Regions from separate parts of the Homo sapiens genome. Here all the other regions are linked to region 1. Evidence: fine-mapped expression QTL. A gene starts in region 1. Each other region holds a variant in brackets. All regions are shown on one strand. Distances are between the middles of the regions.

Region 1 (8,110 bases):
ATGTCCACAACACACCCATCATAAACTGTTTCTTCCTCCTGTATTCTCTTTCTGGTGGACCACCAGGCCCCAATCACTAGATCAGAAGCCTAAAAGTCATTCTTGACTTCTTTTCTCACTACACACATCTAATCAATAACCAAGACCTCCTGATTTTACTCCCTCACTCAGACCTACAGCATCTCTTGCTTGGATGCCTGCCACGGCTTCCTAGTCTGTCTCCATGCCTCTGGTCTTTTTAACTCTAGCCAGCAATCCCCAGGCCTTCTTCAGTCATCCTGCTGATTATCTCATTGCCCTTAGTTTAAAAATCTAAGATTTGCTTAACAGGCCCTTTAGGTCTGGTCCTAGTTTGTCCAGAATTGGTTCCTTCCCGTGGGTTCTTGGTCTCACTGACTTCAAGAATGAAGCCGCGGACCCTTGCGGTGAGTGTTACAGTTCTTAAAGATGGTGTGTACGGAGTTTGTTCGTTCAGATGTTCAGAGTTTCTTCCTTCTGGTGGGTTCGTGGTCTTGCTGACTTCAGGAGTGAAGCTGCAGACTTTCACAGTGAGTGTTACAGCTCTTAAAGGTGGCACGCAGGTTGTTCGTTCCTCCCGGTGGGTTCATGGTCTCGCTGACTTCAGGAATGAAGCCGCAGACCTTCGCAGGGAGTGTTACAGCTCATAAAGGTAGTGCGGACCCATAGAGTGAGCAGCAGCAAGATTTATTGTGAAGAGCGAAAAAACAAAGCTTCCACAGCCTGGAAGGTGACCGAGGGGGGTTGCCGCTGCTGGCTCTGGTGGCCAGCTTTTATTCCCTTATTTGGCCCCACCCACATCCTGCTGATTGGTCCATTTTACAAAGAGCTGATTGGTGGGTTTACAAACCTTTAGCTAGACACAGAGCGCCGATTGGTGCATTTACAATCCTTTAGCTAGACAGAAAAGTTCTCCAAGTCCCCATCCGACCCAGAAGCCCAGCGGCTTTACCTCTCACTAGCTTTTCTCTTTAGCTTCATCTCAAGTCTCTGGCCCCTACTTTATGTTCCAGAACACCAAACTTAATATGGGAACACACCATGTCTGTAATCAAGGACAACCCTGAGATTGTGTACATGCTACTTCCCCTACTTGGAATATCCTTACTTTCATTGCATGTGGTTATGTCTTCCTGATCCTTTAGGCCTCAGTAGATACTTTCACTGTTTCCTGAGGTATTCTCTAACCCATTCAAGTGTATACTCCTAAACTACCTTGAACTTTCCCATCTAAGTCATATCGTCATATGTCAAACTATGTCATGTTGTCATACCATCTTTGTCTCTTTGCTAATTTGTCTCTTCCACTGTACAGCATGTTCTAGGGGAGAAGGAACCAGATGCAGCTTGCACTTATAAATCCACAATGCCTGGCACATAGTAGGCGCTCACTAAATATTCGTTGAATTAATCACTTACAGTTGAACATTCCCCTTCCTTAAGGCCAAAGAGACTGTCTCTTTCCATTGCCCATGACCCCCTAAAACTACAATGAAATTTTATGACTTCTTAAAACTTTTCTTATTGCTGTTTTTATGTATTTGTACAAAACCAGACAAATACAAATATCTAGAGGGGCTCATGTATTTAACTAGATATGCAAATCCAGTGTGAGTAGTGGAAGCTGTGGTAACCTGGCCAGCACCCTCTGTAAAGGTGGTGTTCACTAGTAACCGCAATCCAGATCCCATGAAAAAATAAGGGCCCAATGTCACCATGTGTTCTGAGGTTTTAAAAGAAGCTGAAATGATTCTGGATTTTGAAATGTTGGCTTGGCAGGGCGTGGTGGCTTACACCTGTAATCCCAGCACTTTGGGCAGCTTAGGGGGGTGGATCACCTGAGATAACGAGTTCGAGACCAGCCTGGCCAACATGGTGAAACCCAGTCTCTACTAAAAATACAAAAATTAACTGGGTGTGGTGACATGCGCCTGTAATCCCAGCTACTTGGGAGGCTGAGGCAGGAAAATCGCTTGAACCAAGGAGGCAGAAGTTGCAGTGAGCTGAGATCACGCCACTGCACTCCAGCCTGGGCAACAAGAGCAAAACGTGTCAAAAAAAAAAAAAAAAAAAAAAAAAGGTTGGCTCAAATTTTTCATGAACATTGAGTGCAGCAAAAAAAAAACATGCCTGTCCACCAAGCTGTCTGTGGGCCATGTTTGGTTTGAGAATCCTAGTTTATTCTCGGGTCCCTTAAGGCTCTCTTTGATGCTCATTCTGATGACATTACACTAAGATTTACTGATTGAGGGTACGGACACTTCTCCATACACACTTGCCCAGGAACGATCTCCAGTTACCTGTCCTGTCTCCAAGATCTTCTCTCTCTCATCCAATCTTGCCTATGCAGCATTCTATTTTCAGAGTCGTCTTTGCTAATTTGGGGAAGTCACTTATTCAAACAAGAAAGTGGTTGACAAATGTTTAGCAATGAAATCTCCCGCGAGTTACTACTTTTTAATTAGGATTTTCAACCCTAAGAAAGATATAGATAGGAGGAATAAGATAGGGGGAATAAGGAAACTAATTTTGAGGGGTTTCCCTGCCTCTTAGGTGGGGTTTATCATATTGTGCTGAAACTGCTTATTCGTCTAGTTCTCCAGACCCTGGGCCATTTATCTTACGTATCCCTATCTCTGAGCGTGTAGAAGGCGCTCCATAAAACTGTTGGTTTGTGTAAATGACCGAAAACTACATGCAGCGTGAGGGTGGATTTCCCTTTGACTTCGGCTTAAGGAAGAATCGTTCCCATGATCATCCCACAATTCATCTAAACGGAGATAGGCAAGGAGCAACTGCTCAAAGGCAAAGCGCTGGCAGCTGAGGCACAGCTCCGGTTCGGCAAACGTCTCCCGAGTGCCAAACGTCCCCCCAAACGCCTAACTGGTCGTCAGGGCGCAGAAAAGAAGCTTGGGGGGCGCGGTCTTCGCCCCAGCTCCACTTCGGTGCTTCACGATTCCTTCTCTGGCCTGCCTTCCTGATAAATACCCGGTGAGGTCACCTAAACGCTCTCCTCTCTCAGTTATTTGCTTCTTTCCAACGTTTGGCGCCCAGCTCCCGCCATCGGAGCGCCCCGCCCGAGACCACTGATCTCCTGGGGCCTCGCAGCCTTGCTTCCGAACGCCAAGGTCGCGGTGCGCCGGGGTAGCGAACGGCCAGGCCCGAAACCCCGCCCCGCAGCTAAACGCCCGGCCCGCTACCCTGCGCCCAGCTCCAGCCGCCGGGTCCCGCCTGGGCCTCTCCTCCTGGGAATACCGGGCACCGGTGGCCCCGCCCCTACCTGCGCGCCGCATCTCCGGGAACAACAGTCTCCCTCCCGAGCATCACAGCCAGACATGGCCCAGACCAGGGACCCGCGCGGCCTCCAATCTCCGCACGGCTTTGCGCGCGGCGCTTAGCCTGGGATACGGCAGCGAGGCCGCAAATGCAATCAGGCGGCGCTGAGGGCAGCCCGGGGGCGGGGCGAACGGGGCGGGGGCCGGGGTCTGGTAAGGCCCCGCCGGCTGAGATATCCAGCGGCGCACCTGACTTCCCGGGAGGCAAGGCCAACGTGGTTGGAGGCGGGGCTGGGTTGGGGGGCGGGGGTTCAAGTCTGAGAGACCTAAAGGCACCGCTAGCGTCTGGGGGCGTGGCCAACCATGCGGGAGGCGGGGCCTTGATGCTGGACATCAGGCTGTGCTGCGGGCAGCCAGTGAGAAGGCCGTCAAGATGGCGGCCTCCTGGAGGCTGGGCTGTGATCCGCGGCTGCTGCGTTATCTTGTGGGCTTCCCCGGCCGCCGAAGCGTAGGGCTGGTGAAGGGGGCTCTTGGGTGGTCTGTAAGCCGCGGAGCTAATTGGAGATGGTTTCACAGCACGCAGTGGCTTCGGGGTGAGTGGCCGGGGCTCGCTCAGCTTCTCTGTGTAGCTGAGTGATGGGCCTGGGACAGGGGCAGTTATGATTGAGGGCCTGCTTTTGGGTGTGAAGGTGCGCGGGCTCCTTATTCCCTTTCCTCTTTCTCCGGTTGGGGTCCGCCGACTTGGCCTAATGCATGCTGTGAAGGGCTTTCTTGGCAGCTGAGAGAACTCGACTCTGCCCTAGGCCCCCTGGTTTGTATGGCTTTGTGACCTTGCCTTGGAATTTGGGTTATTTGTGAGGCGCAGAGAGGGTTCCCAAACTCTCCTCCCTCAGCCCCCTTTCCAATCAAGGCTCAGGTTTCTTTAGGGTTGTCAAACGTCTCGGACGAGAAAAAGCTGCCCAAGGTTGCCGAGATTGAAAAGCCACTGTTGGGAGTTCTTACTTATTCTCTAGGCCTCTCTCTGTTAGGAGGTGTTTTCATTGAGGCCAGTCGAGTTTTACCCCACGCCATGACTCGTGGAAGACTTAAATTTGTAAATTCCTACGGCATCACGATAGACAAAGGTCCAGGAGAATGTTTCAAGCAAATATTCGCTTGAAAGAGCAAACATTTAGGAGATAAATCATACCAAAAATTTATTATAGAAAATTGTTGTTTAGTAATGATATTGATGCAGTTAACACAATTCTTGCAGTATTTAACAGTATGCAAAATGGCAGGCCGGGTATTATTTTTCCTTATTTTGGGAGAAGGTTGGAGGGAGGCGGGGATGGAGAATAGGACTGACGTTTTTTAGTGTGACGTATTACCTGCCAATCATCGTTCCTGGCACTCTACAGAATGAATTTTAATTTAAATAGGTCTAGTAGACGTTGCCTTCATATTCTGAGCTACCTTAGGCTCAGAAAAAAAAAATCACACAAAGTCATATGGTAAGATGAGTGTATTGGGGTTCCTAAAGGTTCCTTAATGGGAACAATTTATTTCATTTTTGGTGTAATGTTTCATAACATATTCCTTGGAGCAGAGGTGCTTTAACAGTGTGTGCAGAATTCCTTCTCTTCCCTCCTCCAAGTTTGTTGAAATTAAACTTTTTTCCAGCTCCTAGAGATTCGGTCTGGTCTGGTGTGGGGCTCAGGAATCTGCATTTTACAAATGTTGGATGAGTTTTGATGTTTTATTTTGACATTTAATGGAATGAGCTTTGAGACTCACTGCCTTAGAAAATCATGGAATATTAAAAGTTTAGTATTGGATATAATCTAGGAAGAGTGCTCTTAATCTTGTTTATCAAGCAGATCCTTTTGAGAATCTTTGAAAATGTTACAGACTCTCTGTACAGAGGAAGTACCATAAATGGTCACACACAAAAATGTGCACGTAGTGGCTCACGCCTGTAATCCCAGCACTTTGGGAGGCGAAGCTGGAAGATTGCTAGAGCCCAGGAGTTGGAGACCAGCCCGGGCAACAAAGTGAGACCCCCGTCTCTACTTAAAAAAAAAAAAAGAAAGAAAAAAAGCCAGGCGTGCTGGCATCCCAGCTACTCCAGGGGCTGAGGCAGGAGGATCCGTTGAACCCAGGAGTTAGACGTTTCATTGAGCTATGATCCTGCCGCTGCACTTTAGCCTGGGTGACAGAGTGAGACCCTGTCTCAGGAGAAAAAAAAAAAAAAGTATACATAGGCCCAGTTTAATGCCTTTAGAAACTCAGTTAGGCAAGCAATCCTTATCTGCATCCTCATGATGCTTTTTTACCTATTCCCTATCCCCTAGACATATACCATGAACAACTTGTCTACCCCAGTTTGAATACCATCTGTCAGGAAGAAGGCATGGCATCTCAAGGAAAGCCAAATTAGTTTTCTAGTGCTGCTGCAACAAATTACCAGAAATTAGTGGCTTAAAACAACACAAATTCACATCTCATAGTTCTAGAGGTCCGAAGTCCAAAATGGATCTAACTAGGCTAAAATCAAGCTATTGGTAGGAGCTGCATTCTTTTCTGGAGGCTCGAGACCCCATTCCCTTAAGTTTTCCAGATTCTAGAGGTTTCTAAGATTCTTTGACTCATGGGCTTCAAAGTCAGCAATGGCTGGTTCAGTCTTTATCACATTACGTCACTCTTAATACTCCCCTCTGCCTTCTGCCACTTACAAGGACCCTTGTGATTACATTGGGCTCATCTGGATGATCCTGAATATTTTCCCCATCTCAAGGTTGAGTAGAAACCTTAATTCCATCTTTAACCTTAATTCCCTCTTGCCATGTAACAGCATATTCATAGGTTCTGGGTATTAGGACGTGAACCTTTTGAGGCATGGCATTCTGCATGTGAAGCTGTGGAAAGTATTTGGAAATACTAAGTATTTGGAAGTGTTGGACTTTTTTCCTAATACCGAGCCAAAATATATCCGCTTCTGACTTTCACCTACATACAGATTTTTGTTTTGCCATGCCGAAAACACGTGGCAATCCTTGAACTATTTGTTTTACAAACTGTGAATTTACGGTGGTGTTTTTTCTCTGAGCTTGGTAGAAACTGTAGTTTTATAAAACTAAACAACTATTTGGATTACTGTAAACTATATAAATTAAGTACATTTATTGAACTGTTTCGTCTTTCACACAAATATCTTTAAAAATTTGTCAGTCGGAACTACCTTTGGAGTTTTAATTTCCTTAAGAGGTGCTGGCAGCATTTTTATGAGCTATGACATATGCCATTTTCTTAGCACTTTCTAGAATTTCTCATTCACTTCTCACATAACCTAGTAAAGTTGGCATCATCTGCATTTAGTTGGACAAAAACACCAAGGCTTAGAGAAATTGAGTCTCCTAAAGACATGTAACTGTGTTGATGAACTGAAGTGCATGTATATATTTATATACATATATTAATTTGTTTAACAAATCTTTAATTTGTATCATTCTCTCAACAGATTTATTGAGAATGCAGAGACTATCTTTTTTACCACTTACATTATTGAAGAATGAGTGAAGAAATTAGCATCTATTAGGTGCCAGGCACATGGTACCCTGCTTGGGAAGTAGTGGCCAGCTGAATCAAACAGATTCTCAGTATTTGCCACATGGCACATTTAATCATACTTAGCTCCTGGACATGCAATCCAAAATTCTATATAGGGCTGATCCTTAAGGTATTTGTAGTCTCTTTGGGGACATAAACAATAAAGGTATGATTTCAATAGTGTATACAGTAAGCTCAGAGGGGGTAAGTTTGAAATGATCAGGAAATAATATATAAGGCAGCTTCTTAGAGGAAGAGGTGACAGCCCTTACAGGCTGAAGGAACAGCAGAAACAAAGACCCAGAGACCAGAGTGATCATTATATAATTGACACAGCATCTGTAAACAGTTTTTCAACCTACTCTAGACAGTTAACTTCAGAGAGTTTAAATTGTGGTCCTTTCAGAGTAGGTAGCATGATTTGGAATATAATTGGTAAGATGTTAATTAATAGTATTGGTTTTAAGTTGTCTCTGAAGAATAACATGTTGAATTTAAAATAACCTGTGAATAGAAAAGTAACTGAGGTTCAATCTTGGTGGCGATTTGCCTAGTATATAATTATAGGCAATACATATTATAGATGTTCAATAAACATATCTAAGGAAGCTAGTAATCTAGGAAGTTATAAAAGAACACTAGAGCCTACAGTAGGATTCCAAGTTGGCAGCCAGGGAACTGACCCACATTGTTTTAGCAGAAAAACTTATGGCAAAATTTTAAAATCAGGAGACTTTACAGAGAAATCTAGATTTTTGTTCTCTCTTTAAAATTGATAGTTAAATCCTATGTGGTGACAATTATCTAACACTGAGTAATGATTGTTCTTTTTAGGTAGGAAATTGCTTCCTACTTTGTCACTATGCCGCCTACTCTGTATTACATCTTAGCAAGGCTGAATGTCCCTTGGTATTTGCATCACCTCTAGTTGTCATTTTTTTTTCTTGTACTCTTATCTCTACGGAAGGCAGAAGACAAAAGACCAAGAAAAATGGGAGAAAGCAGATATTGTGTATATGTGTAAAGGAGGAAAATGCTTATCCATTTAATATGAAAATAAAGGATGTCAGAATCTAAAGAAAAAACCTGAAGATGCTAGTCCTCTTCTCTCACCTGCCTGTTTTTTGTAGGCATCTGAGTTTTTGACAGCAGTGCTATAACCAGGAGAGAGGGAACTTCTTTGATAGAGTTAATGGTATGGTATTTCTGCCAAAACACGGATACTCTTT
Region 2 (8,110 bases), 78 kb after region 1:
AAATGCCTTTTAAAGTTCATATATGTGTCTTTTCAAATCATGTGAACAATTACATTGCTTAAGGGAGGAAAAATGCTTTTATAGATTATTCTCTCTCCCGTTATTCCAAGAACTGTATAAGTCAAAATTCATCTCATTTTTTACCTTGAATCCAAATAGTTTTATAAATAACCACATCCAAATAGCATACACCTGTAATTGTTTCTGTTGGCAGTACGTTACAGTAATGTGTTTTTAGATTTTTGATATTTTTAAAGACTTTCAATTTTAAAAAATTAAATCATCTATGAATTAAAGTTAGTTATCAACTGTGATTGTAATAGTGCCTATGTTGCCTATGTAATACAAAATATTAAGTAAATTCCACATTTATTTTATCTACCCAAATGACAGTGACCTCATTTTTCTGTACCCTTCCTCTTAAGTTAATTCGTTATTAATTTTTTATATATGATGACTCAACCTCTGTTCCCTTGCTTTTAAGCACTGAAAAATAAAAATTAACAGAAATGTGGTTAATTCCAAGTACAAGTGAGAGGAAAATTTAACTAATATGTCATCTGTCTTGTCTTCTGTAAGATTTTTAGAAATCGCTGTGGTCAAGAGTGATATGAATCAAGTACATCCTTATATTCCTTGTGGCAGTGTAAATTGGACTAGCTCATTCAGGAAATGATTTAGCTATAGGATCAAGAACCAAAAGAAGTCTATTCTCTAGGGCACTATAATTCCACTTCTGAAAATTTACCTGAAATAATTCAGAAGAAACCGTGAACCAAATTATAACACTGGGAAATAACCAAGTAAATTAGGCAGGTGCAGTCTTTAGGAACAAACATTAAAAAATCATTTCTGAAGGCTGACAACACAGAAGATACATATAATATTGAACAATTAAATATAAAATTTATTTTTTATAACCATTGTGTGGGGTTGAGATTGTGGATAAAGATGAAGCAAACTCTGAAAGATAAAAACGGAATGTTGGTTGTGGGATTGTGGGTATACTACTTTGGTTGCCATTGGATAATTTATTTAAAACACACAGATTGGCCAGGCATGGTGGCTCATACCTGTAATCCCACCACTTTGGGAGGCCGAGGTGGGTGGATCACTTGAGTTCAGGAGTTGGAGACCAGCCTGACCAACATGGTGAAACCCCATCTCTACTAAAAATATAAAAAATTAGCTGGGCGTGGCGGTGGGTGCCTGAAATCTCAGCTACTCAGGACGCTGAGGCAAGAGAATTGCTTGAACCTGGGAGATGGAGGTTGCAATAGGCCATAATCACACCACTGCACTCCAGCCAGGGCAACAGAGTGAGACTTCTCAAAAAAAAAAAAAAAAAAAAAACTAAAAAACACTAGATTGACCAGAATGGATTCTTGTATTTTTTTTCTTACCATAAAGTTTTATAGGCAAAATAGAAAATTTCATTTTGCATATAGGAAACTCTAAAGCATTTTGCATAATAATTGATGGTACACAGGGTAATTCCCACATTTGAAAAATTGTTAAAGGAAGTGATTTTTCTAGAGTTTTGATTAACAGCTTTAGTTTCTTGAATTATCTGTGCTCTTGTTTGTTCTTATAATTAGAGAAAATTATTTTTATATAGGTAACAAAATCAAATCAAGGCATATCAGAGATGAGAGTATATGATGTACAAATATTTCAAGTGACAAGATCAACTGTATAACATTTTGTTGGTTGTCCTATTCTGTTTGTATTTTTCTCAGGCTCTATCAAAGAAAGCAAGAGATGGAAAATTGTTGCCTGAAGAATACCAAGGAGGATCTTTTAGGTAAAATTTAAACTCTTAATTATCCATAGCATCAAACAGATAGATGTAAGACTTATAAAGTCCCTGTCAGCCTTTCATTTATCTGAAATATTTTTTAAAATTTAAGCTAAAAATACTTTATTTAGACAATAGAATATCTGAAAAAATTCTTCAGACTAGTCAGGCTTTCATATTAAAGCTAGTAGGAACCTATTAGTGTTGAACTAAACGTTCGTTGGACATTGACTAACATGGAATGATAAATATTATGTATTCTTTAGTATCTGACCCACCCCCAATATTAATGTCTGTAATATTATATTGCTATGTGAAACAACCACTTATTTATTATTGCAGCATATAATATTCTATTGTATAAATATACCAGAATTCATTTTACTGTTGGTGGGCATTTGCGTTGCTTCCAGTTCGGGGCTATTACAAATTATGGTGCTATGAACATTCTTATTAGTGTCTTATAGTGAATGTATGTACATTTTTTGTTGTATAGACCTAAAAGTAGAATTCCTAAGTTAGAAGCTTTAGCAGCTACTACCAAACAATTTTCCAAATGGTTATACAAATTTACACCTCCACCAACGGTCCTGAGAATTCCCATTGCTCCACATTCTTGCCACTATTTAATAATGTTAGGTTTTAAATTTTAACAATTCTTGGGGTGTGTAGTGGTACTCTTTGTAGGAAAATGCAAATTAGTGATGTTGAGTACTTTTCACTCATCAGCCGTTTGGGTATCTGGTAATTCATGAGATAAAGTACCCACTGCAATCTGGTGTCCATTTAAAAAAATGATGTATAGTTCTTATTTCTGGATATACAGACCTTTATAGGATATATATTGTTTCAAATAGCTTTCACACTCTGTGACTTGCCTTTGGGACTCTCTCGGTGATTTTTTTAAATGAACGGAAGTTCTGAGTTTTAATGAATTCCTATTTATCAGTATTTTTCTTTGTAGTTGGTACTGTTCATTTTCTGTTAGGAATTTTTGCCTATCTCAGAGTCATGAAGTTACTCTTCTGTGTTATCTTCTAAAAGCATTTACGTTACTTTTCACATGTAGATCACAATTCAACTGAAATTGGATTTTGTATATAATGTGAAGTTTCAAGTGCTCTTTTTTCCCCATATGGATACTAAATTTACACAGCATCATGTATTGAATATTGATTTCTCCTTTTTCATAGCATTGAAAAGGTGATTATATATGTGTTGGTCTAGTTCTGTGCTATTTTTTTTCCACTGGCCTGTTTGTCTATCCTTTGTTTACTACCACCAAGCTATAACTCTTGATAGCTGGTAATGAAGTCTTCCAATTTTGTTCACCCTCAAGATTGTCTTCTGGCTTTTCGTATTTCCAAATAAATTGTAAAATTGATTTGCCATTTTTCACACACACACCCCTTGCTGGTTTCTTGATTGGGATTGCATTAAGTCTTTTGATGATTTGAGAATTGACATCCTTACAGTATTGAGTATTCTAACCTGTGAATATGGTAGAAACCATTGTGTATTCAGTTATTTGATTTCTTTCAGTTATGTTTTATAATTTTCTGTGTAGAGGTCTTGTATATGTTTCATTAGATTTATTCTTTGGTATTTGTTTTTTGATACTATTATAAATGGTATTGTTTTAAATTTTTATTTTCTAATTATAGCAACTTGTATGTAGAGTCATGTGCCACTTTATGATGGGGATATGAGAAATGCATTGTTAGGCAGTTTCATCATGCAAACATCATAGAGTGTACTTACGCAAATCATGCAAACATCATAGAGTGTACTTACACAAACCTAAATGGTACATGCTGCTACACACCTTAGCTGTATGATATAGCCAGTTGCTCCTAGACTGCAAACCTATACAGCATGTTACTCTACTGAATACCGTAAGCAGTTGTGACACAATGATGAGTATTTGGGTATCTAAACATATCTAAGCATTTTTAAAATGTACAGTAAAAATGTAAAAAGTAAAACATGGTACACCTGTTTAGGGCACTTACCGTGAATGGAGCTTGCAAGACTAGAAGTTGCTCTGGAAGAATCAGTGAATGAGTGAATGCTTAGGACATCACTATACACTACTGTAGACTTTATAAACACTGCACACTTAGGCTACACTAAATTTATTTTTAAAATAAAGTAATTGCAATATGATGTTATGACAGCTATGATGCCACTAGGCAGCAGAAATTCCTGAGCTCCATTATAATCTTATAAGACCACCGTTGTATATGTGATCCTTCGTTATGTGGGACATGACTCGATATAAAATGGATTGTTATATTGACCTTTTATCTGATGACTTAACTAAATTTACTTATTAATTTTACTAGTTATCTATAGTCTCATTTTTCCTGTGTACACAATTAATTTATTTGTAAATACTAAATGTTTCCTTTTTTCATTACTCATATATTTTTTTCTTGCCTTACTACACTGCCTAGTAAAATATATAAAATATGTGCTTCACGGAAAGGGGACTTTGATTAAGGACATGCCTCCTTCAGAGCTTTTTCTTTTCCCCCTAGTATTTCCAACTTGGGGATGTTTGGCATCGACGAATTTACTGCAGTGATTAACCCTCCTCAGGCCTGCATTTTGGCGGTTGGGAGGTTCCGACCTGTGCTGAAGCTCACTGAGGATGAAGAGGGAAATGCCAAACTGCAGCAGCGCCAGCTCATAACAGTCACAATGTCAAGTGACAGTCGAGTGGTTGATGACGAACTGGCAACCAGGTTTCTTAAAAGTTTTAAAGCAAACCTAGAGAATCCTATCCGACTTGCCTAGTCCTCAAAGATAAGAAGTTGGTGTTCAGCTTAGTTGATTCAGTAGTTGTTACCAAGAAACATATGTTATAGGAAAACAACTTGGTATTTAAGTATGAAGTGGATGAAATGTTT[A/G]TTTATTTAAGGTGAAAGCATTTGACCCAGGGTGTCTTCATCTTCAATTTGGGTTTAATGTTATAGAAATAAATGATGATAAACTCTAACTAATAAAGGAAAGAGAATATTTGGTTACTCAGATCCATTTTTAACCTCTGGTGCTGTATAAAGGGAATATTAAACTAGATGTAAATCAAAGTATATGTTTGGCTCATTTGAGCATTTTGGAATATTTGAGAATGTATGATACATGTAAAATTAAAAAAACTATTAGAACTGTACCATAATTATGTTGAAGGTAGAAGTGATCTTCAAAGAGATGGCCATTAACTTAGCAGTGGGACCTCACTTTTACAAGCACTGCTCTAGATATACTTGAAGAATTTAATAGGTACAGAAGTTTATTCTGGATAATAAATAAATAAGGATCACACTGTATTAGGGGTTATGGCAACATTATTGAATTTTTTATGTACATAAAGCCATATGTTTAGGGTGGTTTCTATCTGTCTTGTTTTTCACTTATATAACACTGTGAACTTCTAAAGCAAGAGGATAAAAGAAGCATGAATGAAAAGAATGACATTTCAAAAAAATGGTTCAATGAAAAACTATAGCTAAAATATGTAAACCTTTCTAGGTAAACCGCTTGCCTTCATCTTGAGTCGGAATATATTTAAATAAATTGTGTTATCTCTTGCCAAACATTTTGTTAGTGTTTATTTAAAAACAAAATGTTGTTTCTTAATGCATTTAAATCAGTTTTGTATTGTGCAGTAAAATGTGAGAAAATATAAACATTTCTATTGTATTTTAAATGTTAAAACACAAAAGTTCAATAAACCTTGAAGTTGATTAGTAGTTTTTCTAGAACACCTTTAAAAGGGCTCTACAGGAGAAAAGACGGAATTTAAAATTAGTATGACATTAGGAAAGTAACTGATAGGAAATGTAAAACTTTGGAAAGAGAATAGAAGACTTATGAAGCCAAACAGATGAGAACTATCCTTTTTATTTCACTAATATGAAATTTTCACTAATTATTATAAAGTTTAGAAGAGTTTGTTTCTCTCTTTTGGCAGCTCTGCTATAACTGTCAAGATAACTATATTTAAGTTGGATGGTAATGAATGGTAATTTAATTAACTTGTCACAAAAAGGTTTATGTTAGTGTCAGCTGACATGAATCAATAGAAGAAAGGCTAATATAGTACAAGTTGTATGGTATGACATGATGAATTATAAACCCTAACAGAAGAGCCTTCTAAAATAATTAGCACCCTGGTGTATTAATTGTTAAGAAAATGCTTAATCCAACTATCCAACTCAGTTTAACAAGCCATTTAAAAAAAATAGTCTTCAAAACTTTTGTCATATTAACAGTTACACTGAAAATTATAACCAAAGGCTATTTTCAAAATAATTTTTATGTTACATTATTTCCAAGGTCAGTTTTAATCGAAATTATTATTATTATTACTACTTTTTCTTGAGATGGGGTCTTGCTCTGTGGCCCAGGCTGTAGTGCAGTGCTGGGATCACAGATCACTGCAACCTCGACCTCCTAGGCTCAAGTGATCCTCCTCCCTCAGCCTCCCGAGTAGCTAAGGACTAAAGGCATGCACCATCATGCCTGGCTAATTTTTCTATTTTTTTTTTTTAGAGACAGGGTCTTGCCATGTTGCTCAGGCTGGTCCCAAACTCCTGGGCTCAAGTAGTCGACCCACCTTGGCCTCGCAAAGTGCTGGGATTACACAGGCATGAGCTACTGTGCTAGGCCGTTGTTTTTGTTGTGGTTGTTGTTTGTTTGTTCATTTTAATTTTTATATCTGAGGAACAGAACATGATGAGGCAGCCATAAATAAGCCTGACTCAGAGTTCTGCTTTTCATGAACTGACGTACATAAGCAGTAGTGCATCTGTTTCCCTATAGGTGAAATGGGCATTAATATTTACTCAGCCTGCCTTAGAGAGTTGAACTGTACAAGGGAAATCGCTGTATAAATTTAAGATGTTTTAATTCATGGACCTCACAACCAGGCTTTTCATATAATCACCTGCCTCTCATGGTTTGACTTCTCAGCTTCTGGTACAAATGCTTGTTCATTCTGACCAAAAATATTGTCTCTGGTATTTCTATACTGATGAGGTGGTTTAGATTAAGGAAGTTTTCATTTCTAAAAAGAATTTTGTTGTAGTTTGAGATCAAAGAATAACACTGAGAAAGGAGTATGGTATACTTGGTTTGAACTGTGTGCTACACTACCAGGCCCCTTCCACATTATACTACTAATTTATTTAAAATAGATAGGTATCACACTGAGAGGATATAAAAAAAATTTCTGCCTCTTCATTTTTGTTTCTTGTTTGAACAGAAAAAATGACCAAAATATTGGGAGTACTTCTAAGGAAAAGGCAACACACATTCCAGTTAACACTTGGATGTGAAAATATCAATGAATATTAGAATTTATAAGTCAAACTGGCTCTGCTCGCTGATTGCAATTTTTAGTTACATTCACTATTTTGTGCTAAATTTAAGTCATTGGTATACGACTGGCCAGAGTCCTTGGTTTTAAACATTACTGAGAACTTTATATATACTCTTAATGGGTATTTTATATAATGTCGAATGAAACTTTTATTTTTAGATTTTTAAAAAATATTTTGCACTTTGGACTTAATTTTACACTAAATTGTATCAGCCAGCCTAAGGGCATTATGCTAAATGTAAATCTAGTTCTTGGTTAAGCTTTTATTGAAAGATAGGTGGTGCTGTAAGTTAATATATTGTAGTGAAAGTGTGGGAGAAAAGTTAAATTGGCACTTAAATCTTAGTTTTCAAGGAAAACGTGTCCCGCACATACTGCATTATGATGGACTTTGTCTCAGGTGAAGTGAAGAAGTGAAAGAATCAAGTGTATGGCCGGTAAGAATTAACCATTAATTTAAATGGGATGCTATTAGTGGGAAACTTTTACTGATTTTTGAAGAAGGAAGTAACAGTGCAGATTTACTTTTATCAGTCTGGCCATAATGTGCAAGTCAGTAGGTCAAAACAGGGAGAGGATAGCAGTCATCAGAAAAGAACTGGAAGATTTTGCCATAATGAAAGTATAAGTTGATTAGGATCTGCACTAGGTCAGTGTCTTTAAAGAAGGAGGAAATGGGTAAAAGTTGGCATGTTACCATGCTATGAGGTGTCTTATGAATATATGGGGTAGATGTATTCAGTCAGATAATGCAGGAACAGTGATAGAATTTCCCATCCAAAACACTAGTCCTCCATGGCTCACGTTCACCAATATGAAAACGAATAAGATTCCAGTAAGTTATGTACAGCAAATAGTGTATTTCAGTAGACATTTAAACTTTTTGTGAATGGAAAAGGCAATAGTCTTTCTATAAAATCCTTTTA
Region 3 (8,110 bases), 53 kb before region 1:
GGTTTAATATGCTTATGTAACCTCATTGAAGGGCTGATTTCCTCAGTTAATAAGGATGCAAAAGACCAGAGTGCCCACTTAAGAGAGACTATGTTTAGACCTCTCAAGGAATAATTAATAAAGGGAATCAAGGGTCAAAGATTATTTCAACTGACAAGTCTAGGCCCTTCTCATTAGTAAAAACTGCCCGGTTGCCTTGCAGTATTTTCTTTGCCAGGAGACAACACCTATCCTAAATGTTTAAGTGACTTCTTGTTGGGCTGGTTTCGGAGGATTAAGCTCAGTGTAATTTCATCCTTCCCAGGTGTGAGACACTTGCGTGTGCAGTAATATGATTCTGTACTGTCAGGGAAAAGAGTGTGTCTTTGTCAGCAGTGTTTGGCAGTCAAACCCCTGAATCATGACCTCACTTTCAGGTAATCACTCTTTGCAGGCTTAAAACCCCTGGCGTTACCACTTGCTCTTATGCTGAGAGACTTAAAGGTTTGGCTGCTGGCACGTGGTCCTGCTGGTCAGCAGAATGGAGATGATCTGTGCTGGCAGCCCAACTGGACTTCAGAAAGCATTCCCTCCCCAGCTGTTTGGATTCAGTTTCTAAGTGCTGAGCAATACCATCTCTATGTTCAAGAAGGGCAAAAACCAAAATGAGTAGTAATTATTTGGATTTGCTTTAGCCTGTAGTTAGATCAATTCTTCTTCTGATGCTTTGGGTAATGTCCTCAAAATGATTTCCTACTGAATGTTTACAATTTCAACATGTAATACATACTCTGGATAAAGCAGTAGCTCACAAATCATCTGATCAACAAGGTGAATCCTATCTCTGTCTTGGTCCACATGGAGACTAGCACATGTGATTGACAGGCAGATAAGGGCCGTATTGTCATTTGGTTGCACCTGTCCATATGGCGAGGGATCGGAAATGAGAAATGGCTGTATTCTAAGCTGGGGATTATAGAGCTGTGTTACTCTAAGTCTTACTGTCTTACAGTAGCAAGGAGCAAGAAGAGTCTTGAAAGAACGGAGCCTTAAATATCATAGGTCAAGCCCTATAGTTTCACAGATGAGGAACTATTGCCTCAGAGACAGAAAGCAACTTACACAAAATCACAGAGAAAATGCGAGTGGCCTTGCTGGGGTTAGAGTCAAAGTTTCCTGACACCCATCTAGTGGTCTTTCTGCTACACCTTTTTGTTTCCACAGAGTTTTACTGACCCCTGTATTAAAGAAAAAAAAAAGATAAAGGAAAAAAAGCCTGTTTTGGCATGGTCCCTTGTTCTATGGTTTAAGGTCAGTCTTGTTCTTCAGCATCAGCACTTTAAGGTTTTTTTTTTTTTTTTTTTTATCAGAAGTCTCTATATGGTTAGCCTGAACCAGATGAAATTGCTGCTTTTATGAGGCAAAAAGTTAAATATAGTAAATTTCAGATAGTTCTACCTGAGAGTTTTTCATTTAGAAAGTGGCAGTTAATGCCGGGCGCGGTGGTTCACGCCCGTAATCCCAGCACTTTGGGAGGCTGAGGCGGGTGGATCACGAGCTCAGGAGATCAAGACCATCCTGGCTAACACGGTGAAATCCCGTCTCTACTAAAAATACAAAAAATTAGTCGGGCACGTGGTGGCGGGCGCCTGTAGTCCCAGCTACTCGGGAGGCTGAGGCAGGAGAATGGCGTGAACCCGGGAGGCGGAGCTTGCGGTGAGCCGAGATGGCGCCACTGCACTACAGCCTGGGCGACAGAGTGAGACTCCATCTCAAAAATAAAAATAATAATAATAATAATAATAATAATGATAATAAATAAAAGGAAGTGGCAGTTAACATAGTTGTCCTTGAATTTAGTAAATTAGCAAATCATGTTCTCTTATTGGATTACTTATTAACCAAACCCTGTCCCCTAAACCTATATGGATACTTTCTACTTTTCCCTTTCTATCCAGAGGGAAACATAAAGCAATGTAAGAGGAATAGAGGAGGCTGACCATAGCTAAGACTTTTGTAAGGCTGCCAAATATAAGGTATTGCCAATGTCTCCTGTGTTCTTGGCCATTAAACTTTAAGATATCCCTTCCTTAAGTCCACTATTTATACCACCAAAACCAGGTCCAACTTCTTGATAGTACATTCTCATAGCACCTCATAGTTCTCTCTTGTAGCACTTCTACTTTTTCACTTACTTCTAAGGTTATTTTACTAACTTCTTCCAGATCTATGAGGGCAGGAACCTGACTGGTTTGCTTATGCTGCACTTGGAGCACTTAGCACAGAGTCCAGCATACTCAGCAAGTATGTGCTGAACGAATGAACAAAAGTCAAATGGTCTGATTTATTTCTGTCCACCCCACTTGGTGAACCTTATGTCAGAACATTTTTGTTTATTTATTTATTTGTTTGTTTGTTTATAGACAGAGTCTTGCTCTGTCACCCAAGTTGGAGTGCAATGGTACAATCATAGCTCACTGTGACCTTGAACTCCTGGGTTCCAGTGATCCTCCTGCCTTAGCCTTCAAAGTAGCTAGGACTACAGACACACACCATCATGCCTGGCCCAGAATATTTTGTTTAAATTTAAATCCAATAATGGAAATCTGTGAGAAAACCCAATCATGTCACTTGGAGAGGCTTACCTGTCACAGGCCAGCCAGTGACCTACACCAGGTGCCAATGAACTCAGGAGGCAGGGCTCCCCTTGAAATTTCTTTGTATGTCAATGAGACTAATATGTAGGGTAACTTAGAATTTGGATCTTAAGCTTTCAGGGACTTTAAAATCCATCAGCAAGATATCCTCATAAACACTTGGCCATCATGCTTTCCGACTATTGGGAAGAGCATTCTGGAAGTCCCCATAACCCCCCTGGCTGGTGCATATGAACACACAATGGGCCAAAGGAAAGTCCAGCTACGTGGACATCAGCTGGTAGAGCCACTTCAGCAAACAGAGGCAGGAGTTGGAAGTGAGAGGGGCAGAAATGGAAAGTCTGGTCTCCACCAGTTCATGAGGGTCAGAGAAGTTTGTGTATATTGGGTCAGAGTTAAAAACAACTGGGGTGTAATAGAAGGTGCTCTATAACAGATCTGGGCTGTGGGGAGGTCCTTAGATTTTTGAGCCAAACCAGAGCCTTCGCCCCTTGTCACTGACTGATCCCTTTTTGAAGAAAATTACCTGACCATAAGACTAATCCATAAACTGTCAGTGATCTAGGAAGGCCAAATCCACACAGACTAACCTAGATGCTGCCCTACCTGCATTCCAGAGTGGGGCCTGATATCATACCTGATGTTCTTGGAGAGAATGAGACTTCCAGTGATTTCTTGGTTTGCCTATGCCCAGGCACAGAGAGAGTGATCTTTTCCCAGAATAAGTACAGTGTGACCTGGTGCCTTAACTGCTCTTAACCACCTTACACTTTTCTAGTCAAGATCATTATCTGCAGGCTGGGCATGCTAGAAAGCGGAGTCTTCCCTACTGACATCTCAGCAGGATTTATGATCCTCTCTGCTTATGGAACATGAGAAAGCCAGGCCTTGGGGTACAGCTGAGACAGAATGCTTGCTTGAGAAACCAGCTCATCAAACAGGACTTACTTGAAATAATTGATCTAGGCTTCAGTTGAAATTGATAGTGGCGTAGACAGAATTTCCCGTGTCTGTCTTTTCATTTCCAAACTTCTTCAAGGAGTAGTCTATGTGGCTCCTCAAGGTCTTCTCCTTAACCCCCTAACATCTGGCTTTCATTTTTCAGTTGTCTTCCCCAGGCCGGGCAATCTATGCTGTTGGATCTAGGTTGGTTGGAACTTTCTAAGATTGCTACTGTCCTTGTCTTGAAAGTCCAATTAAAGGCAAGAGGAAATATTTTGCAGACTTCTGAGTTGGGTTGAATCTGATGCTTGATTTATTTGAATGTTACACTGATTATGGGAGAGACAGATTCCAAATTAGACTTCTGAGTTGGGTTGAATCTGATGCTTGATTTATTTGAATGTTACACTGACTGTGGGAGAAACAGATTCCAACTTAAGACTTCTGAGTTGGGTTGAATCTGATGCTTGATTTATCTGACTGCTACACTGTGGGACAGACAGAGTCCAGCTCAGCCCCACATTCTGAATTGTGAGAACCAAGATATATACTTCGTTTAAATTTC[C/A]AACTGTGTGACGGACCGCATTCTCTAAATTAATAGGTAGAGGCATCTGAACACCAAATTGTAGCCCTAATTTGTTATAACTAAAGTCCCCTTTGATTGTGCCCTTTCTACATCTTATCAGAGGGACACAGAGTGGAAGACTGTTAGTCTGAGATTAACAAACACTGGAAGGTTATATGAGAAAGCGCGTGTTGGATTTTAAAGTTAAAGAACTTTAGGCAAATTTCTTAGAGTACACCAATTCTCCTTTTTGCCAAATTCAAGAGTGAAACAGAAAACAAAATTTAAAAAACAAACTACTGTTTATTAGGCAGTATACTTGACACTTTGCATATATTATTTTATTTAAACAACCCTTAAAGGAGGCATTTTTGTCCCCACTAAAGGAGATTTGACCAAGGTCACATTACCAATAAATGGTGGAGGTAGGACTCAAAGTTAGGCTTTTCTGAAACTAGAGTCCATGTACTTAACACTACTATACTGCACTTTTTCCCGTCAGTCTTATTCTTGCTTTTTAGCAGCAGATGATATTTTACATTCTCTCTTCTTTTTGAAACTCTCACAAGTTAAACTAAATGTTATGCTCCTCCAGTTTTCCACATACTTCCTCTTTCTCCATTTCCTTTGTTAGTTCCTCTTCTCTCTCTTGCATTCCAGAATGTGCCCTAAAGCTTAGTGTTTCTTCACACCTTTGGAAAGATGACCTGTACCCAGGGCTTCAATTTACACTTCCACATCCCACCAGACTCTGAATTTCAGGACAATGGAGACCCGATCTATCTTATTCACTGGCAAATTCTTAGCATCTTGCAGAGTGCCTGATACATAGTAGATGTTTAATAGATGGTCAAATGAATGGATGCATGAACTACAGATCTGCTGATAATTCTCAGATACTCTCCTGAAGTCCAGATACATATTCCTAGGTAACTACTAGATCTTTCCTCCTTAGTATCTTGCTATTGCTGTGAAATGGTAGTAAAAATTTGGTGAAGCCATTGAGGGTTTCAGCAATTTACTGGGGCTACCACACCAGCTGGACTCTCTCATGTTTCCCCAATGGAGGTGGCTTTATTACCAAGCTGGGATATAGACCTTCTACAGAGGAAAATGGCAGCCTGACTCCTTCCAATGATATGGGTTTGAGCTTCTTTGAGAGGGTCCCAGTGCAGCCTCTGGTTGGAGTCCTTGCTAAGTAGACATGGATAAAAGATGGTTGGATCTGAAGCAACTAGTAGCTCATCTGGGGGTGACAATACCACCACATTCATTTGGGTCAATGCATGCTAGTGTTAGCTGCCCAGGGAAGAGTTAATTCCAGGTGAAGTGTAGGCATGGAAGAAGAATGAGCACATAGTTGTGAAGAGTCACAATCCTAGCAGGGCCTCCAGATCTGTCTCCTGGCTGCCTCCTCCTGCTTTGAGTGCTCAGATATTTCCATGAAACTTGGCTGTAAATGCCAAAGTTGGTGGTTGTCCGTAATTACCAGGGGTGTGGTTCACTGAGCATTTGCTTAGTCTGAAATAATCAAATGACTTCTTGTGGGAAGAATGAACAGAGAGAGCCTTAGAGGCTGGATGACCTCTACCTGCTGAGTCACCCTGCCCACCTAATTGCTTCATACTATTTCTGTACTATGTGCTTCCTGGTGGGCATTAACATGTGATCAAAGATCTTCGTACTTCACGCTTGCTATAATATCTATTCTCACACTTTCTACCCTAAGACAATTTGATTCCAATTTCCCAATCTTTCTTCTTCTAGGCCCCTGATCAGCCAGCCAGGCCATTTGCCACTGCCAATGAATCTATAACTTTGGGCCATTTCTTTCGTCCATACAAAGTGGGTGACCAGATTCATCTCTTGAACTCTTTCCATTGGAAGAATTTTTCCCTGACCACTATCTTTCAAGGCCACCCCTGAGGGGATGTGTAGAGCAGCTGCTGACCATTTTTGGCTTGCACTACATACTGCTTGCATTACCTCCTGAGCTCCACCTCCTGTCAGATCAGCAGCGGCATTAGGTTCTCATAGGAGTGTGAACCCTATTGTGAACTGTGCATGCAAGGGATCTAGGTTGCATGTTCCTTATGAGAATCTAATGCCTGATGATGTGTCACTGTCTCCCATCACCCCCAGATGGGACCATCTAGTTGCATCTAGTAGCTCAGGGCTCCTGCCAATTCTACATTATGGTGAGTCGTACCATTATTTTATTATATATTGCAATGGAATAATAATGGAAATAAAGTGCACAATAAATGTAATACACTTGCATCATCCTGAAACCATCCCCCTCACCCCATCTGTGGGAAAATTGGCTTCCATGAAACTGGCCCATGGTGCCAAAAAGATTGGGGACCACTGGGTTTGACAAAACCCAGTTCATGATGATGCGTGTTCTGGATGCAGGGTCACTTGGTGCATTAGTTAGGGTTCTCCAGAGAAACAGACCCATAGATGGACACACACACACACACAGACAGAGTGGGGAAATAGAGAGATTTATTGTAAGGAATTGGCTCATGTGACTGTGTGAGCAGGCACCACCAGAATTTACAGAGCAGGCCGGCAGGCTCTCAGAAACACACGGAAAAGCTGATGTTGCAATCTTGTGCAATCTTAAATCCAAAGACAGTGTGAATGCAGAATTTCTTCCTCCTCAGGGGACCTCCAACTTTTCCCTTAAGGTCTTCAACTGATTGGATGAGGCCCACCCATATTATGGGGGTAATCTGCTTTACTCAAAGTCTACTGATTTAAGTGTCCATCATATCTAAAAAATAGCTTCAAAGCAACATCTAGACTGATGTTTGCCCAAATATCTGGACATTGTCGCCGGGCCAAGTTGGCATATAAAATTAACCATCACCCTTGGTATCTCAGAGGCAAGTTCCATATTTATTACGGCCCAGTAGCACACTAGAGTTTTTCAAAAGGCAAATAATTCTTCCTTGCAGATGGCATGGCTTTGTTCCAGAAATCTGGGATCTGCATAACGATTGTCCCACTGGGACTCACCATAAACTAACATGACATATTTTCCCACCACCGGTACTCAAACATCATACGGTCTTCTGGGTCACTGGCTCAAATGTTCAGGAGTTACTGTAGAACCCTTTTCTGCTCTGGGTTCCCTCAATGATGGTAATTTTCAAGACACCCAGCACATGGACCGGAGCCGCATTCCCAAGTGTGAAATGTGCTGACTTCAGAACCTAAAGAGGTCTACAAGGAATTGTGCTTCCTTTTTCCTAATGGGGAGCGCAAGATGTAATATCTGTCTTTCACTTTGGGTGGGATATGCTAGCATGCCCATCATCATTGGATCTTTAAAATTTTCGCTGATGTTGAGCTTCTGAATCTTCCTAGGGCTTACCTCCCACCTCTGGAGCAGATGCTAGCTGGTTCTTGATCATTCAGCCATTTAGCGCCATGTCATCAATGTAGTGGATCAATATGAGGTCCAGCGAGATACTCAGAAAGCCCAAATTTCCTCAGACTATATTACAAGAGTGAGAACTAACACAGCCCTGGAGAAAACTATAGCTCTGTTGCCTATTTCACATGAAACTAAACTGTTTCTGGTCTTTTCTTTTTTAAGAGACAGGATCTAGCTCTATAGCCCAGGCTGGAGTTCAGTGGTACAATCATAGCTCACTGTGGCTTCTAACTCCTGGGCTCACGTGATACTCCTGCCTCAGCCTCCTGAGCAGTGGGGACTGTAAGTGTGAGCCACTACACCTGGCTTCTGATCTTTTTTTCTGATAGAAATGGCTGGCTCCATGCTGTGTACCCAAAGCCATGTTCACCTGCTCTAGCACAGGTGCCACATCTGGCACAGCAGCTACAGCTGTGTTTGTGTAGTCTACTCTCATGCTCCAGGAGATCCATCTAATTTCTGGAGGGGTCCAGACTGGTGAATTAAGTGGAGATAAAATGAGGATCTCTACTCTGGCCTCCT
Region 4 (8,110 bases), 35 kb before region 1:
GATTTTATAATCCTACTCTTCCCAATTCCTTCCTTTAAGATGTAATACATTACTGATTTATTTATTAACCACCCCATCCATTATTAACCACCCCTTCTATTCTGTCCCAAACAGGAATTTAAGACTTTCTCAGTCCTACTCCATTAACAACAATAACCAATTATGCCCCATAACATAAAAGTTAACATGGCATTCATTCTTCTTAGGCTCAATTCTCTTACAATGGAATTTGGAGGAGGTTACATAGACACTTCTTTTTACTCCTCAATCCCATTTAATATTGCTGGAGAACCAAGAGTCATTCATTCAACATTTATTGATATTTACTTGCTAACGAAGGTTTACAGTAATATCCCTTGAGGGATAAAGATTTCCTACCCAGCCATGGGCAGAAATATTCAGCACCCTGAGGATGCCTACTCCATTCTCTTGCCTGTTGGAACCTTCTTTGGGTGTCCTTTAGATCATTTATATCAAACAGATAAGCTTACAGATGGTCATCAAGGCTTTGACTAGGAGCATTTGACACCAACACAGCACAACTTACTGTTTCATAAGTTTACTCCTTACACTAATGTAGTTTTTTTTGGTGGGGGTGGTGTCTAGGGTATTTTGCTTTTCACCCAGTTTTTATCAAACAATGCAAGCCTAAATGAGCATAAGATTATACACATATAACACTTTTATGTTTAGAGCATGGGAAAGACATGTTTATTAACAGAAAAGTTTAACCATGCATGAGTAAAGAGAACAGATCCTAACTGTCTAGTGGGTTCCAATCACAATGTATTGAGTTATTTTAAAGTTAACCTAAAGGGATTGTATACCAGGAAAATAGTACTTTTCCTTTGCTTGTATTAAAAGCAATAGATGCAATTAAACCTGAAACTGACAATGAACAATTGTGAAACCAATGGAAAAATTTGCAGATGATTTAAAACACATTGTTCAAGATAAAAGGCTGGTGATGACTTGATCAACATCCTCAAAAGAAACAAAACATGATTATTTGAGGACGTGGATAAACACTACTGAATAAATGAAATAATCTTAAGTTCACAAATCACATATACAGCACTATATTTGATGGGTTATTTTAAAGGATTTTTTATGATAATTTTGACTACTGGAAATTTTTACTTAACTTTCAAAGCTCTACTGTATATATATATATAAATTTTCCTGGTTTCATCTCCAAAGATGTGGTCCTTATTGCAATAATGAAGTAGGAAAAGTAAAAGGTACTTACTAAAAGTATGAATAAAATAGTAGAACATATTAAAATTTGTTAGAACCCTAAGTCCCTAATACTCATATCAGAAGCCAAATATACTTTAAGAGCATATTTGTGTTTATAACTTAAGACCACAAAAGAATACCCATTTCAGTGATTATTATCCAAAACTTGGTGATTCAGTGCTTATAAATTACAGATCAGTGAAATGGAAACCAAAATCTGTTTTGTTTTGTTTTGTTTTTTGAGATAGAGTCTTGCTCTGTCACCCAAGCTGGAGTGCAGTGGTGCGATCTCAGCTCACTGCACTCTCCACCTCCCTGGTTCAAGTGATTCTTGTGCCTCAGCCTCCGAAGTAGAGGGGACTACAGGTGCCTGCCACCATGCCTGGCTAATTTTTAAAATATTTTTAGTAGAGATGGGGTTTCACCATGTTGGCCAGGCTGATCTCGAAACTCCTGACCTCAGGTGATCCGCCTACTTCAGCCTCCCAAAGTGCTGGGATTACAGGCGTGAGCCACTGTGCTGGGCCTTGTAGTCCTGCTTTAAAGAAACTTGGTGGGAGAATTCAAATTGCCTCTTGAATAGTGATGTCAACATTATTAGTTCCACATCTGACCATCTTGACTAGAACTGCTGATGAGACATGGCAAAATTTTCTCAAAAGGGAGGTATTTGAACAAATTGAGATATAAAATGAAACACTCCTTAAGATTATGACTTTACCTTTCGGATTTTGGGACATTCTCTAGGGAACTATGTTATTTTGAAGTATCTCTCACAAGAAAGTTGGGTGGGACCAAAAGCCTCTAGAATCATTTGAGAAACAAATGATAGTCCCTTATTCAATCTGAGAGTGAATGGCATGTCCTGCACTTAATGAAATAAAAAATGTGTTTGATCTAGATCTCTTAGCAGTTTAATCCTGCATTCATAACCAAATTTTCCTCTTATTTAAAGAAGCTGGAATAACTGAGAGAACAACAATCACAAGGGCATGTGAAGAAGAATGCCTGCTTCCCCCTCCCTCATTCACTGAACACCTATGTGGCAGGCACTGAGGATTAGCTCCCAGCCTGGATTTGTATTCATCTTTGGACCTTGGCTCCTAGCAGTCACACAGGAGGGATCATATTCTTAAAAAAAAAGGATATTAACTAGGGGATACAGCCTTCCACCAGCTGTTCCCCTACCTCTAAAGCAGGTTTTGCAATCTTTTCTGCACTCCCAGGAAAGAAATATACAACTGGAGATGTGCTGCTGCTGCTGTATAGTTTAAATGGTTTACCTGCATGACAATTACTTTGAAGATAGCTAGGTGAGGGGTTTTTAGGAAAGGAAGTTTATATTTTGAGTGCATACATAGTATATGACAGGTACTGTGTTAAGAAGTTTACCTGTTTTCTCTTATTTAAATTCTACATATTTATTATTCCTATCTGAGCCTCAATTTTCTCATCTAAGAAAATAGGTACAATATCTATCTCAAAAGACTATTATGAGGATTAAAAGGGATTTTAAAAAACACTAATATTTATTGAACATCTACACTGGATTAAGCATTGTGGTTTGTTCCTCCACATACTTTATCTTATTCATTAGCTGCATTTTAAAATGAGGAAAATGAAATTAACCAGAGGTGGCTAAAACTATTTTTCCCCAGTGGAAGAACCTCCGCCAAGAATCCAGAAAACAGGCTGGGGGCAGTGGCTCATGCCTGTAATCACAGCACTTTGGGAGGCCGAGGTGGGCGGATCATTTGAGGCCAGGAGTTTGAGACCAGTCTGGCCAACATGGCGAAACCCTGTCTCTACTAAAATACAAAAATTAGCCGGGGGTGGTAGCATGCCTGTGATCCCAGCTACTTGGGAGGCTGAGGCAGGAGAATCGCTTGAACCCAGGAGATGGAGGTTGCAGTAAGCCAAGATGGTGCTACTGCACTCCAGCCTGGGTGACAGAGCAAGACTGTCA[CA/C]AAAAAAAAAAAAAAAAAAAAAGAAAAAACAAACAAACCCAGATACAGGCAAGGTTGCAGGGAAAAGGGAACCCTTACATAGTGTTGGTAGGAGTGCAAATTAGTTCAAACATTGTGGAAAGCAGTATGGCAATTCCTCAAAGAGCTAAAAGCAGAACAACCATTTGACCCAGCAATCCTATTATTACTGGGTATATACCTGAAGGAATATAAAGCATTCTACCATAACGACACATGCACACAAATGTTCACTGCAGCACTATTCACAAGAGTAAAGACACGGAATCAACCTAAATGCCCATCAGTGACAGAATGGATAAGGAAAATATGGTACATATACACCATGGAATATTATGCAGCCATAGAAAAGAACAAGATTATGTCTTTTGCGGGAACATGGATGGAGCTGGAGGCTATTATTCTTAGCAAACTAACACAGTAACAGAAAACCAAATACTGCATGTTCTCACTTCTAAGTGGGAGCTAAATGGCAATAACTTATGACTACAAAGAAGGAAACAACAGACACTGGGGTCTACTTGATGGCGGAGGGTGGGAGGAGGAAGAAGAGCATAAAAGATAACTATTGGATACTGAACTTAATACCCGGGTGATGTAATAATATGTACAACAAACCCCTGTGACATGTGTTTGTCTATGTAACAAACCTTCATGTGGGCCCCCAAACCTAAAATTTAAAACAATTTTAAAGAAAGGACTTTCTGATTACATCATCGGTTTGATCAAGATTTGTTTGGTTAAGGGAATTTGAGTTGATACCACCTGACCTGAATTTCACAACTGATCCCAATATAAAATGAGTGTCCTGTTGTAGACCACAGGGAAACACTAAAGCTAATAGGGGAAATCTATAAAATTATTTTGACATTAACATTGAGGGATAAATTTGGACTTAATGTTTCATATTTATTTTCTGACACCAACATTAAAACAAGAGAATGCTCATTCCACAATGAGGAAATTTTCTAATGAATTTTATTATCACCAGCATCTTTAAAAATTAAGAGGAATTCTCTGAGAGTATATATAAAAAAGAAATTAAAGGCAAATATTTTGCTGTTAAGGATTTAAAAATAAACAGAAACATAGAGTATAAAATTTTCATTTCACTGTGCCCTCATTTAAAATTATAAGAATATAAGCAAATAACATCCAATGTCAGAAGAGATTCAGGGTGACCATTTGCAGTATTTAGTGGCAAATTAGTAGCATCATGAAAAATTTCAATTCATTTAAAAAAATAGCTTTCATTTAAATAATAATTACGTTTAGCTTTATCTCTGTATATAATTAGACTTTCTTTTGGCTTAGACAATTCCATTTTCTCCAACTGGGAGCTGTGAAGGATCAAGTCCTACTTTCTTCATTGATACGGCAATATCAAATAAATAGTCATAACACTCACACCTGTAAAAGAAAAAGCAAAAAGAACCAGTGTTTATCGAAACAGAGTTCTCCAATCCTAAAGAATCACATTTCTCCTCTCTTGCAGTTAACTCTGCTTTGTTCCTAGTATGTATTTTCTCTCAATTCTAGGCCAAAATTCTATTTTTCCCTCAACATTTTTAAAACACAGAAAGGAATCATATTAAGTCATGCAACAATATTACATACCTCTCAGGAAATAAAAGAGAGTTTAAAATATACTGCCTACATAAATTTACATTTTTTTTAAACTAGATGTCACTTTCTGAAATAGAACTTTTGTAACTTGGGATCTGTGTCTTCTTCCTCTATCAACATTCCTAGAGCCTTGCCAAACAACAGCTCATCCAATCAATACTTCTTCATGAATGGATACATAATAAAAATAAAGTATCTACAAATAATGATAAACAATTTAAATTTAAACCAACTGACATACTTTGTTTTCCTTCACATTTAGCGGGTGGTAACTTGTTCCCCATGTTCTCTGATTTACACTCACATGGTTTTGGCCTTCTCCCATGTTTCCCCCCACACATATACTCCATGACGTCTGACCAGTACTGCACAGGAGTCTGGGTATTCATTCATTGCATGAGCCATTCTATCTTTGAGGTCTTTCTCCTCAGGTGTATTCTCAATAATGGGTACCACTAACATATCATCATATCTGTAAGACAAAACAAGCCATTTTTTTCCATTAAAACAAATCAAGCATTGATATGTATACAACATGTAATTTTTTCAAGTAACCAGTTAGACATGCTGTTTGTGTCTGAAAAGCCACTCCAAATTATGAACAGGATGTTGCGTGTTATTCTGTGTACCTTGTATAAACATCTCTATCAAAAGGTACCTTGGGAATGTGGCAGGCTTGGTCTAATCCTAAGCCTAAGTGGTGGAAATTTGTAAAATATACCAAAACCTAACAAAGAAATCATCAAGATCATATAAATGTTTCCTTGAAGCAGGGACAATCATAATATTTATACAAGGAGATGGCAAATGATATATTTCAGAATCAGAAGCATAGAAAAGATTAAAAATTGAATTATATATTAAGAATTTCCCAATTAATACAAAATCACTGTATTTCATTTCTGCAGAATCCCAAAGTATCTGAGATAGGCAAATCAAAAAACACAAGCATGGTTTGTGGCACTAGGACAGCAAGAATGTTCTGGAGATAACTCTTAAAGGTACGACGCTTTCAGAACATTCTCAAATCTGTAGCATTAGAACTTCTTTTACTTCCACTGTCCTCTCAGGAAATACATGTGATGAAATCAGAATGTAATATTTAAACACATAATTGTCACTGGCAAAATTAAGTCTATTCTTGCAAAAACTCAGATAAGCTTTCCTTTTTACATGAATTTCTCTTGTTTTGTTAATGTAACATCTGCTTTTTCACTACTTCTATAGTGCTAAAAACTTAAAAAAAAAAGTTCTAGCTAAAGTATTCTGCAATTGCTACTGTAGGGCAAGCACAGACTAAGTAGTCATCATGTGACTGATAACTTGGCCAACCATTATCATTAAGAGTATAGAGTTGCCCATCACTTCACTTAAGTAAAACAGAGGTAATTATAGACTATCCTTAACTATGGCTAGGTGCATTGGCTCATAGCTATAATCCCAGCACTTTGGGAAGCCAAGGCAGATGGACTGTTTGAGCTCATGAATTTAAAACCAGCCTGGCCAACATGGTGAAACCCCATCTGTACAAAAAATACAAAAATCAGCCAGGTATGGTGGTGCATGCCTGTAGTCCCACCTACTCGGAAGACTGAGGTGAGAGAATGGCTTGAGCCTGGGAGGCGGAGGTTGCATAAGACAAGATCGAGACACTACACTCTAGCCTTGGCGACAGAGCCAGACTTAGTCTCAAAAAAAAAAGAAAAAAGTATCCTTAAATATTGAAGGAATGAATTGCTAGTCTCAAATCTTTCCTAATATTGGCCGAGAGAACCATAAACATATTTTTCTCTAGCATGCACTCAATAGTCAGAAATATTTTCAGGAGCAAAATAATTTCACAGCAAAGTAAGAACTGAAAGCGAATTCAAGCCAGTCCTCCCACTTTACAAACATGACACTGATCCAGACAAGTTAAATGAGAAAGAGAGCCAGGATAGCCCTTTGACCCTCAAAGAGTATTGTTTTCACTGTACCATAGAGACATTGCTTCTGAAAGGGAGTACAATTATAATATAAAGTTATGTATATGTATACATTATACAACTATAATATATGTATACATAGTATACATGTATATTATATATATTATATATACCTATATAATGTATACCTATATATGTATAGGTATACATGTATAACTATATATGTATATATATACCTATATAACTATATATGTATATTATATATGTATAGTTATACATGTATATATAACTATACATATATAGGTGTATATATATACATATAACTATACATATAAAGGTATATATATACACATATATAGGTATATACATATACATCAATGTCAGACCACAGATATGATGGTGGTCCTATAAGATTATAATGGAGCTGAAAAACTCCATTATACCTGCACAGACCTGGTGGACTGAACAAAGGGGGCGAACGTGGGAATAAAAGATAAAAACAAGAGAGTACGTTTGGAAGAAGAGGTCGGGGGCACCTTGCCTCTAGTGGACAAGGGCCCCGAGCTGTACACAGCCCTCCGTATTTATTGGTAAAAGAGATAACGAGAAATGGGGGGCAATTGTCGGGCAATTGTCAGTCGGCCACTTTGGTTCACAGCAGGCTTGCAAGACTGCATCCTTTGAACAATAGGCTCTAGATTTCTCAATGGATAACTTCAAGGAGCCCGGTGCCAGGGAGTGATGTCCCTCAGCAAACCTTTTGGTGGCAGGCGCAGTGTGAGTTTGCTCACATCCTGCATTCATGATAAACAGTTTGCTGTTTGATCATATAGCCTCCAGTGGAATGCTGAGTTGATCACGATCCCTTTGGCCTTTTTGGCTCTCAACAACTCCTATCGCCTAATGACCGCATAGCTGTCATAGGGTCACAGCACAACATATTATGCAAATGTCTGTGGTGATGCTGGTGTAAACAAACCTACTGTGCTGCTAGCTGTATAAAAGTACAGCACATACAATTATTACAGTATGTAATACGTGATGATAATGACTATGTTAGTAGTTTATGTATTTATTACTCTATAATTTTAAAACACTATTTTAGGGTGTACTCCTTCTACTTATATGGTTTTTAAAAAGTTAACTGTAAAGCAGCCTCGGGCAGGTCCTTCAGGAGGTATTCCGGAAGAAGGCACTGTTAGTTATCACAGGAGATGACAGCTCCATGCATGTTACTTGCCCCTGAAGACCTTCCACTGAGACAAGGTGTGGAGGTGGAAGGCAGTGATATTGATGACCCTGACCCTGTGTACTCCTAGGCTAATATATGTGTTT

Direction of the effects. Alleles are on the strand shown, and positions count from the first base shown. SD is a standard deviation of normalised expression in the study named. Not every link is listed here.
With allele CA in place of C in region 4, the expression in iPS cells of the gene that starts at base 3,689 in region 1 is higher (moderate effect, 0.71 SD a copy in PhLiPS).

The links.
Region 2: its variant is fine-mapped to the expression of PDHX in whole blood (TOPMed, PIP above 0.99). The same link has a PIP of 0.9 or more in fibroblasts.
Region 3: its variant is fine-mapped to the expression of PDHX in nasal epithelium (TOPMed, PIP above 0.99).
Region 4: its variant is fine-mapped to the expression of PDHX in iPS cells (PhLiPS, PIP 0.95).

Annotation. Positions count from the first base shown.
Region 1 is chr11:34,912,930-34,921,039 of GRCh38, forward strand. PDHX (pyruvate dehydrogenase complex component X) reads left to right here and starts at 3,689. Exons shown (of 11, transcript NM_003477.3): 1 at 3,689-3,886. The coding sequence starts at 3,727. APIP (APAF1 interacting protein) reads right to left here and starts at 3,450. Exons shown (of 7, transcript NM_015957.4): 1 at 3,299-3,450. The coding sequence starts at 3,355. RefSeq lists silencers at 3,111-3,450, 3,471-3,520 and an enhancer at 3,691-3,990.
Region 2 is chr11:34,990,576-34,998,685 of GRCh38, forward strand. It overlaps PDHX (pyruvate dehydrogenase complex component X), which reads left to right. Exons shown (of 11, transcript NM_003477.3): 10 at 1,740-1,804; 11 at 4,339-5,553. The coding sequence ends at 4,597. Among named protein-coding and RNA genes, the nearest start is that of MIR1343, 53 kb to the left of the region's middle. The variant A/G (reference allele first, on the strand shown) is at 4,711.
Region 3 is chr11:34,859,820-34,867,929 of GRCh38, forward strand. All of the region lies in intron 6 of LOC102723568 (a long non-coding RNA gene), which reads left to right. All of the region lies in intron 1 of LOC105376624 (a long non-coding RNA gene), which reads right to left. Among named protein-coding and RNA genes, the nearest start is that of APIP, 53 kb to the right of the region's middle. The variant C/A (reference allele first, on the strand shown) is at 4,144.
Region 4 is chr11:34,878,183-34,886,292 of GRCh38, forward strand. APIP (APAF1 interacting protein) reads right to left here. Exons shown (of 7, transcript NM_015957.4): 6 at 5,155-5,322; 7 at 4,113-4,634. The coding sequence ends at 4,535. Among named protein-coding and RNA genes, the nearest start is that of APIP, 34 kb to the right of the region's middle. The variant CA/C (reference allele first, on the strand shown) is at 3,206.